4 linked regions of the Homo sapiens genome follow. The main gene of each other region encodes a partner of the protein of the gene in region 3 in a complex. Each region holds a gene or a part of one and is shown on either strand. Other genes may lie near its edges.

Evidence for each region. The genes of interacting proteins can lie anywhere in the genome.
Region 1: GTF2F1 (region 3) and GTF2H5 share a complex: the UniProt entries of both Homo sapiens proteins name them as parts of the TBP-based Pol II pre-initiation complex.
Region 2: GTF2F1 (region 3) and POLR2H share a complex: the UniProt entries of both Homo sapiens proteins name them as parts of the TBP-based Pol II pre-initiation complex.
Region 4: GTF2F1 (region 3) and GTF2E2 share a complex: the UniProt entries of both Homo sapiens proteins name them as parts of the TBP-based Pol II pre-initiation complex.

What each region holds. Positions count from the first base shown.
Region 1 is NC_000006.12:158,192,350-158,195,849, reverse strand, and holds part of GTF2H5 (general transcription factor IIH subunit 5), read right to left. Parts: 3' UTR 1-3,500. UniProt on the Homo sapiens protein: Component of the general transcription and DNA repair factor IIH (TFIIH) core complex, which is involved in general and transcription-coupled nucleotide excision repair (NER) of damaged DNA and, when complexed to CAK, in RNA transcription by RNA polymerase II.
Region 2 is NC_000003.12:184,366,901-184,369,091, forward strand, and holds the end of POLR2H (DNA-directed RNA polymerases I, II, and III subunit RPABC3), read left to right. Parts: intron 1-1,212; coding exon of another isoform or gene 1,213-1,276; coding exon 1,277-1,394; coding exon of another isoform or gene 1,395-1,405; 3' UTR 1,406-1,691; downstream 1,692-2,191. UniProt on the Homo sapiens protein: DNA-dependent RNA polymerase catalyzes the transcription of DNA into RNA using the four ribonucleoside triphosphates as substrates.
Region 3 is NC_000019.10:6,382,956-6,386,860, reverse strand, and holds part of GTF2F1 (general transcription factor IIF subunit 1), read left to right. Parts: intron 1-3,365; coding exon 3,366-3,550; intron 3,551-3,905. UniProt on the Homo sapiens protein: TFIIF is a general transcription initiation factor that binds to RNA polymerase II and helps to recruit it to the initiation complex in collaboration with TFIIB. It promotes transcription elongation.
Region 4 is NC_000008.11:30,609,737-30,613,236, reverse strand, and holds part of GTF2E2 (transcription initiation factor IIE subunit beta), read left to right. Parts: intron 1-755; coding exon 756-938; intron 939-3,500. UniProt on the Homo sapiens protein: Recruits TFIIH to the initiation complex and stimulates the RNA polymerase II C-terminal domain kinase and DNA-dependent ATPase activities of TFIIH. Both TFIIH and TFIIE are required for promoter clearance by RNA polymerase.

The DNA.
Region 1 (3,500 bases), on a different chromosome or scaffold from region 3:
CAAACTGCATCATTTCTCCATCTTTAAAATATACCCCTTCCCCATCTGTTAAGTTTGTTAAGATAGAATGATCTCAGTATTTTAGTTACAGCAGAGGCTTTTTGTCAGAGCTTTTACTCCTAGTTGTCAGCTAAGTAAGATTTATTGTATAACTGCAAAATAGAGTAGTAAGTACACTACCAACTTCTCAGAAAAAAGTACAATTATGTCAAATCACCTGTTCTAGAAAATGTAAAGAGCAATAAAATCATTAATCATTTGGATTACCACCTATAATGCCTATCAGAAATAAAATGCAGTAGTGTTTGTTGCCTATTATCAGTAATGCTGTTACTGTTCACCAAAACTGATTTCTCAAAATACATTGTTATATCCATCAACTGTGATGTTAGATAGGATCCCTGGAATTTTAAATTAATCACATGAAATTTCACAAGGAAATTGGAATTCAAGGAATTAAGACCTTGAATTTGACCTAATACAGTATTAAAAGAAAAAACCTTTATTGAGAAATATAACACTCAATATCACAACTTCAGTCCATAGTTCTATTAAGAGACAAAGTTTCACTCTGTCATCCAGGCTGCAGTGCAGTGGCACCTTCTTAGCTTACTGCAGCTTCAAACTCCTGGGCTTCAGTGATCCTCCTGCCTCCAGTTAAGTCATTTTAATGCTACCTTTAGGACTTTATTTAAAAAAAAAAAAAAAGTCATAAATTTCTTGGTGCCAAGCACCAACAGCCTTGTTCTGGACATGTAAAGTATGCCAAATCAAATAATGCTAGTCAGATTCCAATAAACAGCCTAGGTGAATGTCGCTTATTTCCTGTTCACCCATAGTTGGACATGTCAGCTAAGTGGTTACAGGTGGGCTTCCTATCATTCACATCACTCTATCTTTCTTAATAATGTCCAGAGAAAGAAAGATATTTAACATTTGCCCCAACACAACTTTTTAAAAATAAGAGCTCATATTTTCCTTCACTTATTTCACTTAATACTCTTTGCAGTTCTAATACCTAACCTTGTTTTTACTAACCTTGTTTTCAGACTGTCCCTTTCTCCCTTAATCACCTAGCCTTGTTTCCATGTGAATAAGCTCTCCCTTAGCTGAGAAAGCCGGAGGAACTCCATTTGGTTCCTTCATTTACAGGACATCAAGGACTCCTTACCCACCCCCTTTCCTCAAGGAGTTAACTTGTGTAAGCTGACTCTCAACATATCAAAGAGTCCAATTAACTCATAAGGTACTGAAGCAAGCAATGTACGAAGTTCCCAGGATTTCGCTCAAGAGATACACCATAAAGCCTTGAGTTTGTGTCTGGCAGAGCCCCCACACCTGACATCTTATGATAGATTTAGAGCCCCTGCACCTGGAACTGTTTGTTTCTCTGTAACCATTTGTCTTTTTAATTTTTTGCATGTTTTTACTTCTGTAGAATTGTTGCAACTGAGCTCCCGTCCCCTTCCTAAACCAAAGTATAAAGGAAAATCAAGCCCCTTCCTCGGAGCTGAGAGAATTCCAAGTGTGAGCCACCTCTTGGCTGCCAGCTAAATAAAGGACTTTTAAATTCGTCTCAAAGTGTGGCGTTCCTCTAACTTGCTCGGGTACAACACAGTCACTGTTCAATAGTTTTCTCATAAATATCTTTTTTTCTCTTTTTTACTTCAGTGGCAAAAATCCTAATACCTTTTGAACTCTGGGATTCTATCAAAAATTTTCTAAGTTTCATGTTAATATAAAAGGTTGGTGACAAATGCCTGAGGCATACTAAAAGTTGATTTAGACATGCCTGAAATATAAGATACATTAGTAACATTTTGGTATAGCTGGAAATTCATTTTTTTTTTTTTTTTTTTTTGAGATGGAGTCTCCCTCTGTCGCCCAGGCTGGAGTGCAGTGGCACAATCTCAGCTTACTGCAAGCTCCGCCTCCCGGGTTCACGCCATTCTCCTGCCTCAGCCTCCTGAGTAGATGGGACTACAGGCACCCGCCACCAGGCCCGGCTAATTTTTTGTATTTTTAATAGAGATGGGGTTTCACCGAGCAGGATGGTCTCGATCTCCTGACCTCGTGAGCTGCCTGCCTCAGCCTCCCAAAGTGCTGGGATTACAGGCGTGAGCCACCGTGCCCAGCCTGGAAATTCTTAAGAATCATCTTTTACTTAACTAGTTTTAGTAGTAGTAACTCATCAAAATTTTTTGCATTGCTATGAGGGAATGAAAACTGTGAACTGTATGGACTGAGTTATATGGGTGGGAATTATGTAAAATATACCTAACTGAAAATTTCCAGATTCAGTAATGCTGTGTAAGTGAATAAATATGGTACACAGGTGCTTTGAATAAACATACCATAAGGAAGCAGGTAAAATGGATTTGTAAGAGTCTACAGGTCATGAAAATTCTCTTTTCTCTTGGAAAATTCCCTTTACAGGAACCCACCCCAATGACATGATCTTCAGGAAGGGAAGCAAAGCCCCTCTCAGTGTTACTGTTTTTGCCTTCAATTGATCACAGAACTCTCTCTTGCTATATATACACACATACATATACACTTTTTTTTTTGGAGACAGGGTCTCACTCTGTCACCTAGGCTGGAGTGGCAGTAGCAATGATCAAGGTTCACTGCAGCCTTGACCTCCTACCTCAGCCTCCCCAGTGGCTGGGACAACAGGCAGATTTTTGTATTTTTTTTTTTGTAGAGACAGGGTTTCGACTCCTGGACTCAAGCGATCTGCCTGCCTCAGCCTCCCAAAGTGCTGGGATTACAGGTGTGAGCCACTAAGCCCAGGCCGCAATGTATTTTAATCTAATATGTCCTTTCCTGTTGGGCTGACTTTGCATATGGCTGTTCCTATTTTTCTTTTTTAGATAAGTTTGATAAGTATTCTCATAGGGAATAAGGTACAAGTAGAATTTTTTTTTTTTTTTTTTTTTTTTTTGAGGCAGGGTCTCTCTGTTGTCCAGGCCAGAGTGCAATGGTGTTTTTGTAGCAACCTCGGACTCCTGGGCTCAAGCAATCCTCCCACCTCAGCCTCCCTAAGCTGTTTTCTTAATAAAAAAGAATACAGATGGGAAAATGTGACCAACAAAGTTTGAACAAGGAAAAACTAAACAAAGCAGCATGTGCCTTTCCCACTGGTTGTTTCTAACCCTCTTAAAAACAATATTCTGTTTTCAGGGAAATGCAAACTGTAGTTTACATTAGTTTTACATTGTCTTCCTCAATAGAGCTGACTGGTATGCAGGTAGGATTTGTGAGACGTACATAATGTCTAAGTCCCCACCTTGGCATATTCAAACAGCAAATCTATGACGTTTCTAACTGAAACCAAACAATCACATCCACGCAGCAAAAATGCACAGATCACAGGGATGAGCAAAATAAATACCTATGTTACACTGACATGGTATTAAAAAGGCAGGAAAAGCATTGACATTTGTATTTTAATAAAGGATAATAAAAGCCAAATTACAGCCAACTGTTAAAGCTTTTTT
Region 2 (2,191 bases), on a different chromosome or scaffold from region 3:
TCAGACCGAGGTGGGAACTAGAAAGAAATAGTTCTGGGAGCAGTTTCCAGTCTGAAATGTAGACTGCCCTTTGTCAGGCCCTCCTGGCCCAGTGGTCCACATGAGAAACTGATTATCTCACTGTGTAAAGTGCAAAGGAGACTTGCTTCCCCAGGAATAAATGCAGCATTAAGTGATTAGACTGTTAGGCTTTGTGTGTGTGTGTGTGTGTGTGTGTGTGTGTGTTTTGCTACTCTGTAAAAGGCTGTGTGTGTGTGTGTGTGTGTGTGTGGCTACTCTGTAACCCAATCCCTAGTTCCTTGGTTTTCCTGTCCAGCTATTTTTTCTTTTCTTTAAAGTCTTATTAAAACAATATGTGCTTTTTGTAAGTAATTTGAAATGCAGAAGAGTAATGTGAAGAAGGAAAAAAAAGTCACCTGTAATTCCATATCCAGAGAGAACCTTTTACATAGACTTTTTTGCATATCCTGGTGTTCTGTTTTTTTCTTGGAGACTGTGGTGTTTATTATGTTTTCTTCTGCTCTTTTTGCTTAACATTATGTAAAACATGTTTCCCCATGTTAGTGTAAAGCTTTTCTTTTCTTTTCTTTTCTTTTTTTTTTTTGAGATGGAGTCTTGCTGTGTTGCCCAGCCTGGAGTGCAGTGGCGCGATCTCGGCTCACTGCAAGCTCCGCCTCCCGGGTTCACGCCATTCTCCTGCCTCAGCCTCCTGAGTAGCTGGGACTACAGGCACCCACCACCATGCCTGGCTAATTTTTTTTTTGTATTTTTAGTAGAGACAGGGTTTCACCATGTTAGCCAGGATGGTCTTGATCTCCTGACCTCGTGATCCGCCCGCCTCAGCCTCCCAAAGTGCTGGGATTACAGGTGTGAGCCACCGTGCCCGGCCGGTGTAAAGCTTTTCTTAAACGTTTCAATAGTTGCATAACATTTCAGTAAGTGGATATGTCTTGATTCATTTGAACATTCCCCTGATTTGGGGCATCTAGGTGTTTTCCACCCTCGATAATATAAAGAACAGTGCCTTGCACATATCTGTGCATTGATGTTTGTCAGAATTTTGGTTCCTAGTGACAAAACAGTAGGAAGATGCCTCTTCTGTTTCTTAGGCTGAGATGGAACAGTGCCTTGCACATACCTGTGCATTGATCTTTGTCAGAATTTTGGTTCCTAGTGACACAACAGTAGGAAGATGCCTCTTCTCTTTCTTAGGCTGAGATTGAGAGCTGCTGAGTGGCAGTGCTCCAGAATCACGGGATGGGGCCTTCTGTTTCAGCTCTGCGTACGTGTCCTATGGGGGCCTGCTCATGAGGCTGCAGGGGGATGCCAACAACCTGCATGGATTCGAGGTGGACTCCAGAGTTTATCTCCTGATGAAGAAGCTAGCCTTCTGAACCTCGCCTGAAGCCAGCCTCTCTGCCAAGTCACTCAGGTCATGGGCATTGTTCAAGCCTGAGTGGCAGCCGCTCTTGCTCACCTGTTGAGGAAGGGCTGGCTCACTGTCCACCGTGGCGGCATCTTTAACTGGCCTCCACTCAATGGGAAACTGACTCGCCTGTGAAAGACACAGTGGGAGAGCTGAAAATGAATCAGAAGCTTTATGTATATGATTTTTAAATTAAACTTTACTTTTTCAGACTGCCCCTCCCCTTTTTGTAAAAAGTCCATTTACTGTAAAATCGTTTTTTCCAGTTTGTCTGTGGTGTATTGTTTCTGGCCCACAGCCAGCTGATCACTTGTCAATGTAGGATCTATTCCAGCCTTTTGGTATCTGGGTTCAGGGTTATCTCAGTCTCCTGGCTGACTGTTCTCAACATTTATCCTCCAGTGTGGTTTTCAGTCTGGGAGAGAGTTGTGCTTTTGGCTCCTGAGGGTACCCCAGGCCCAGAAGATACCACCCATTTGGCGCAGAATTTTGAATTGGCAAGGAGCCCTGCTCATGTCCTTCCAACACTTTCAGTCTCTTAGGAAGTCAGTTCATGCTGACTTGAATGAGTCACTTGCATAGTCTAGAAATGTTCATTATTTTTATGGAAGCTTTGGGTAGAGGCTTTTAGCTACAGGCATGGGAGATGACTATGAAGAGAGTAGGACGAGAGGACTTGGTGGTTCTGGAAGCAGCTGGAGGAGCTGGCTCTCTGCTCTACATTCCAGTGGTGACCTGGGAGGGAGGGTAAGTGGAAGTGGACAG
Region 3 (3,905 bases):
CTTGCAGATGGTGGGGAGGGCACTCTGGACGCATCTACAAATGGCATTTGCACAGGTCACAGATGAGCAGATGCTCAAAGAGTCGATGGCTCCCAAAGGTTAAAAAAACACCTTTTTCGGCTGGGTGTGGTGGCTCACGCCTGTAATCCCAGCACATTGGGAGGCCAAGGCAGGCGGATCACGAGGTCAGGAGATCGAGACCATCCTGGCTAACACGGTGAAACCCCGTCTCTACTAAAAATACAAAAAATTAGCCGGGCATGGTGGCGGGCGCCTGTAGTCCCAGTACTCGGGAGGCTGAGGCAGGAGAATGGCGTGAACTGGGAGGCGGAGCTTGCAGTGATCCTAGATGTTGCCAGTGCACTCCAGCCTGGGCGACAGAGCGAGACTCCGTCTCAAAACAAAACAAATAAAACACCTTTTTCCCTCTTTGGTGTTTTTTTGTTTGTTTGTTTGTTTGTGTGTTTTTTTTTGAACTGAGTTTCGCTCTTGTTGCCCAGGCTGGACTGCAGTGGCGCAATCTCAGCTCACTGCAACCTCCGACTCCTAGGTTCAAGCAATTCTCCTGCCTCAGCCTCCCAAGTAGAGAAATGGGATTACAGGCATGCACCACCACGCCTGGCTAACTTTGTATTTTTTGTAGAGACAGGGTTTCACCATGTTGGCCAGGTGGTCTCAAACTCCTAACCTCAGGTGATCTGCCCCCCTCAGCCTCCCTAAGTGTGGGGATTACATCCGTGAGCCACCACGCCCGGCCTGTTTTAGTTTTGTTGTTTTGTTTTTTTGAGACCGAATCTCGCTCTGTCACCCAGGCTGGAGTGCAGTGGCGCGATCTCAGCTCACTGCAAGCTCCGCCTCCCGGGTTCATGCCATTCTCTGGCCTCAGCCTCCTGGGTAGCTGGGACTACAGGCGCCTGCCACCATGCCCGGCTAATTTTTTTCTATTTTTTTGGTACAGATGGGGTTTCACCGTGGTCTCGATCTCCTGACCTCGTGATCTGCCTGCCTCGGCCTCCCAAAGTGCTGGGATTACAGGCGTGAGCCACCATGCCCAGCCCCTGCTTTAGTTTTTAATCATTTTCTTTGGTTTTAAAATTTCTGAAGAGTCATAGGTTGGCTCAGCTCCAAAAGCAACCCCGGTAAATGGCACGAAGTCAGAGCGTCCTCCCCACCAGGTCATGAGCCTCCGAGCCTGTGGGGCAGTTTCTGTACCCCTGCTCCCCTGGAACAACAGCCCCCAGGTCTGCCTGCCTGCTCCACTTTGGTTGAGTTCCTGGGGCTCCACTGTAAAATCAGTCGATCAATCATTGCTGGGGGGGCAGGTTCGCTTTTGCTGTATTTTCCTTAGAATCTGCTTTGTAAGTTTTAGGGAGAAGAATTTGGCATTTTATAGAATTGTGTAAAACCTGGATGTTAACCAAAGGAGAAATGCCATCTCTTTTTTTTTTTTTTTTTTTTTTTTTTTGAGACAGTCTCACTGTCACCCAGGCTGGAGTGCAGTGGTACCATCTCAGCTCACTGGCTCATTGCAACCTCGACCTCCTGGGTTTAAGCGATTCTGCCTCAGCCTTGCGAGTAGCTGGGACTACACACGTGCACCTCCCCACCTGGCTAATTTTTGTACTTTTAGTAGAGAAGGGGTTTCAGCATATTGCCCAGGCTGGTCTCCAACTCCTGGCCTCAAGTGATCTGCCCGCTTTGGCATCCCAATATGCTGGGATTACAGGTGTGAGCCATGGTGCCCGGCCAGAATGCCATCTCTTGATCAGATGTTAAATCTACTTAGCTAAGAACTGTTCAGGCTGGGCACGTGGAGAGCGGATCGCAAGGTCAAGAGTTCGAGACCAGCCTGGCCAAGAGACCAGCCTGGCCAATTTGGTGAAATGCCATCTCTACTAAAAATACAGAAATTAGCCAGGCATGGTGGCGGGCACCTGTAATCCCAGCTACTCGGGAGGCTGAGGCAGGAGAATTGCTTGAACCCGGGAGGTGGAGGTTGTGGTGAGCCGAGATCACACCATTGCACTCCAGTCTCGGTGACAGATCAAGACTCCAACTCAAAAGAAAAGAAAAGAAAAGAAAAGAACAAATGGTGATGGTGTCTCGCCATGTTGCTCAGGCTGGTCTCAAACTCCTGGGTTCAAGCGAGCCTCCAGCCTCGGCCTCCCCTCCCAAAGTGCTGGGATGACAGGCTTGAGCCACTGCACCAAACTGTCACTGTTTTTTGGTGCATGGCTCAGTGTGGTAAAGCCACTCACAGTGTTAAGCAGCAGTTTCATTATCTTTCACACCAGCCTGGGCCTTGCCCATGTTAGATGCATTCCTATTAAATGCAGTCCTTTTTTTTTTTTTGGAGACAGATTCTTACTCTGTCACCGAGGCTGGAGTGCTGTGGGGCAATCTTAGCTTACTGCAACCTCTGCCTCCTGGGTTCAATTGATTCTCCTCCCTCAGCCTCCTGAGTAGTCAGGACTACAGGCACATGCCACCACGCCCGGCTAATTTTTTAATTTTTTGTAGGGATGAGGTTTCACCATGTTGTTCAGGCTGTTCTCAAACTCCTGACCTCAGGTGATCCACTTGCCTCGGCCTCCCAAAGTGCTGGGATTACAGGCGTGAGCCACCGCGCCCAACCTGGCCTGCAGTCCTGTTTTTTAAAGCTTCCCTGAGCAATGAGACAACGTTACATTGTTCCAATGGAAACAGTATGTTTTGTCATTAAAGAAAAATACATCTATAAATTAAGATAACAAAAGATCTGGCTGGGCACGGTGGCTCACACCTGTAATCCCAGCACTTTGGGAGGCCAAGGTGGATCATGAGGTCAGGAGTTCGAGACCAGCCTGTCCAACATGGTGAAACCCTGTCTCTACTAAAAATACAAAAAAAAAAAAAAATTAGCTGGGCGTGGTGGCAGGCGCCTGGAACCCCGGCTATCTGGGAGGCTGAGTCAGGAGAATTGCTTGAAGCCAGGAGGCGGAGGTTGCAGTGAGCCGAGATCACATCACTGCACTCCAGTCTGGGCGACAGAGCGATACTCTGTCTCAGAAAATAAAAAAATAATAATAAAAAATAGCAAGAAACCAGTGTGACTGGATTGGGGCCAGACTCTGAGTCCGAGGGAGGTGCTGAGACTCCAGCAGCACATGGGGACCTGCTCTTTGAGGGACTCGGGGCAGAACGGGAAGGCAGGAAGGGCTGGCTCTATCCGTGTGGTTTCAGGGAGTCCTGTGCCACAGCCCAAGTCCCCGGGGGCCACATCACCTTGAAGGCTATGTGGGTGGTGCCCTGGGGCTCGCCCCCTGCAAGCACAGATGCAGGGTGGTGCCAGGCCCGGCATGAGCCCCCCTGTGCCTGGCCCGCAGGAGGAACAAGGTGCTGAACCACTTCAGCATCATGCAGCAGCGGCGGCTCAAGGATCAGGACCAGGACGAGGATGAGGAGGAGAAGGAGAAACGTGGCCGCAGGAAGGCGAGCGAGCTGCGCATCCACGACCTGGAGGACGACCTGGAGATGTCGTCCGATGCCAGTGATGCCAGTGGTGAGGAGGGTGAGTACGGGCGCCTGGGCATTAGGTCACAGAGGTGCCTGCTCAGGCAGTGCCAGTGAAGGCAAAGTCTACCATCGCTCACAGTGGCCCTAGAATGAGAGGCAAGTGGGGCCGGGCACAGTGGCTCACGCCTGTCATCCCAGCACTTTGAGAGGCTGAGGCAGGCAGATCACCTGAGATCAGGAGTTTGAGACCAGCCTGGCCAACACAGTGAGACCGTGTCTCTACTGAAAACACAAAAATTAGCTGGGCATGGTGGTGCATGCCTCTAGTGCCAGCTACTCGGGAGACTGAGGCAGGAGAATTGCTTGAACCCGTGAGATAGAGGTTGTGTTGAGCCGAGATCACGCCACTG
Region 4 (3,500 bases), on a different chromosome or scaffold from region 3:
CTAGTAAGGGTTATGTTCCTTACTTTATAATGCCAGTATGTGATAAGCTGTACTTTGCAGATGGAGTGGGCACTACTCAGTTCACTTTGTCTATTAATATTTGTAGGTGTTTTATTGATTCCTACACATTTTGACTACTAGAAGAATATGGGTTCAGCTTTTTTCAAAGTAGTTGTGATAAAATGGTTTATTTCTCTTCAAAGAATTTATGTAAATAAAACACAGTTTCTTTTATAAAAAGTGAGCACCGTGCTGATCTACTGTTCTGGAATTCTGGATGTCCAGGATTTTAGGCCTGCCAGTTTGTATTCATAAGGTACTTTTAATTTGCCACTGTATTGGCTAGTGTTGTATTTTAAAATAATTAGTAGAATTAAGAATGTGTATATGGGCTGGGCACAGTGGCTCACGCCTATAATCCCAGTACTTTGGGAGGCTGAGGTGGGTGGATCACCTGAGGTCAGAAGTTCAAGACCAGCCTGGCCAATGTGGTGAAACCCCGTCTCTACTAAAAATACAAAAATTCGCTGGGTGTGGTGGTGCGCACCTGCAGTCCCAGGTGCTGAGAGGGAGGGAGGCAGGAGAGGGAGGCTGAGGCAGGAGAATCGCTTGAACCCAGGAGGCGGAGGTTGCAGTGAGCTGAGATCACGCCACTGCACTCCAGCCTGGGCGACAGAGCAAGATTACGTTTCAAAAATATATATATATATTTATGTTCCATTTGTTAATATATTCCAATTGTATCACTGTTACAGGCTTTAGTCAACAATCCCAAAATTGAAGTAATAGATGGGAAGTATGCTTTCAAGCCCAAGTACAACGTGAGAGATAAGAAGGCCCTACTTAGGCTCTTAGATCAGCATGACCAGCGAGGATTAGGAGGAATTCTTTTAGAAGACATAGAAGAAGCACTGCCCAATTCCCAGAAAGCTGTCAAGGTAATCTCTCTTTTCTTTCTATGTCTTAATATAATTTGAATGAATAATGACTTCTTGGTTTTAAAAATATCAAACATTTTACAATTGTTTTTAAAGCTTCTATTATATACACATGGGTTACAGTGAGCCACTTGAAGGTTTGAAATTTGTCTTGTGCCACCTAGCAGGAAAGGGAGCAGCCATCTCTGTGTAACTTTGACGGGTTCTTGTTGCTGTTACTATATGATTGTTTGATTGTTCAGGCTATTTCTGGAAAATTTTCCTCAAAGGCAATAGAGTTTCTCTTGTAAGCTCTGTTTGTAAATAAGAGTGTCTTCTATAATACTAGTAGATGTTCCTTACCTGAGGAACTAGAGGCATTAAAACATGAAAGCATTGGTTAATAACCTGGCTGTTTTGAAGTCCTAAAGGGGCTATCTATGAAAGTCCTACTGATACAGATGACATTTCCAGTTTAAATTTGAAACTCACTGGGGAAAGCTGCTTGTTTCCATTTGTCACAGTTGCTCATTATTAATGTTAACTTGTTAAGCAGGTTCATTCATTTTGCTGCCTGTAGAAGAAAACTTGCCCCTTTGTCTCTTCTTCTTGGTAATGGAATTATACATGTCAGATCTTCTGGTATTGTACTACAAGTCCCTGAGGCTCTGTTTATTTATTTCAATTTTTTTTCTGTTCTATTAATCCATTGTCAAGTTCACTCACTTTTCTTCTTCACTTCCAACTTGTTAAGCCCAGTTGGTGAATTTTTTAATTGTATTTTTCAGTTCTAGTCTTTCTTTGTAAATTTTTCTTCTGGTTTCTGTTTCTTTGCTGAATTTTGTTTTCTTTTTTTTCCATTCGTGACAAGTATCTTTTGTTACACCCTTAAGTATGATTTCTTATAGCTGCTTTAAAATTCTTCTTATTCTAACAGCCGAGTCATCTCAGAGCTGGTCTGCATTGACTGTCTCTTTTATGGGTCATATTTTCCTGTTTCTTCATATATCTAATACATTTCTGTTGGGTCTTAGACCTTGTGGATTATATTAATATGTGTAAAGACTCAGGATTCTGTTACATTCCTCCCAAGAGTGTTTCTATTTGTTTTGTTTTGTGGTTAAGTGGGCAGTTACTCCAAACCTTGTCTGCCCTACAGCAGGTAGCATATGATATGTCTCTTCTGTTCTTCTAGCCTTAGCCCGTTTGCTTGGAATCTTGGAATCTTTTTCCAAGACTGGCTTATTTCACTTAGCATAATATTCTCAAGGTTCATCCATGTTGTACTTGCAACAGGATTTTCTTCCTTTTTAAAGCTGAATAATATTCCATTGTGTTTTTGTTGTTGAATTGTGGGAGTTTTAAAAAATATATTCTGGATATTAATTCCTTAACAGATACATGATTTGCAAATATTTTCTCCCATTCTGTAGGTTGCCATTTTACTCTGTTGATTGTGCTCTTTAATTTGCCAGTTTCTGAGTTTGCTGCACTCTTGTCTATTTTTGATTTTGTTGCCTGTGCCTTTAGTATCATGTTTAAATCACTGCCAAATCTAATGTCATGAAGCTTTTGTCCTATGTTTTCTTCTAGGAGTTTTATAGTTTTGGGTCTTAGGTATTTAGAGTTAATTTTTGTATATGGTGTAAGAGTCCAACTTTATTCCTTTTCATGTGGATATCCAGTTTTCTCAGTGTCTTGATGAAGAGACCGTCCTTTGCCCATTGAATAGTCTTAGTCTTGGTACTCATGTGGAAGATCATTTGACCATATATGTGAAGGTTTATTTCTGGGCCCTCTATTCTGCCTGTATGTCTTTCTTCATGCCAGCACTACAATGTTTTGATTAATGTAGCCTTTTTTTTTTTTTTTTTTTGAGACAGAGTCACACTGTCACCCATGCTGGAGTGCAGTGATGCAATCTTGGGTCACTGCAACCTCTGCCTCCCAGGTTCAAGCAGTAGTCCTGCCTCAGCCTCCTGATTAGCTGGGATTATAGGCACACACCACCACACCCAACTAATTTTTTTATTTTTGGTAGAGATGTGGTTTTACCATGTTGGCCAGTCTGGTCTCGAACTCCTGACCTCAAGTGATCTGCCCACCCTCGGCTTCCCAAAGTGGTGGCATTCCAGGTGTGAGCCACTGCACCTGGCCTGATTAATGTAGCTCTGTAATATATTTTGAAATCAGTAAGAGTGAGATCACCAATTTTGTTCTTTTTCAAGATTGTTTTGGCTATGTATTAGTCTATTCTTGCAATGCTATAAAGGAATGCTTGAGACTGGATAATTTATAAAGAAAAGAGATTGATTTGGCTCACAGTTCTGCAGGCTCTCCAGGAAGCATGATGCTGGTGTCTACTCAGCTTATGGGGAGGTCTCAGGAAACTTATAATCATGGCAGAAGGTGAAGGGGAAACAGGCTCATCTTACATGGCCGGAGCAGGAGCAAGAGAGAGTGGGGAAGGTGCCACACACTTTTAAATGACCAGATCTCATGAGAACTCATTATCAGGAGAACAGCACCAAGAGGGAAATCCACCTTCATACCAGTCACCGCCCACCAGGCCCCACCTCCAAC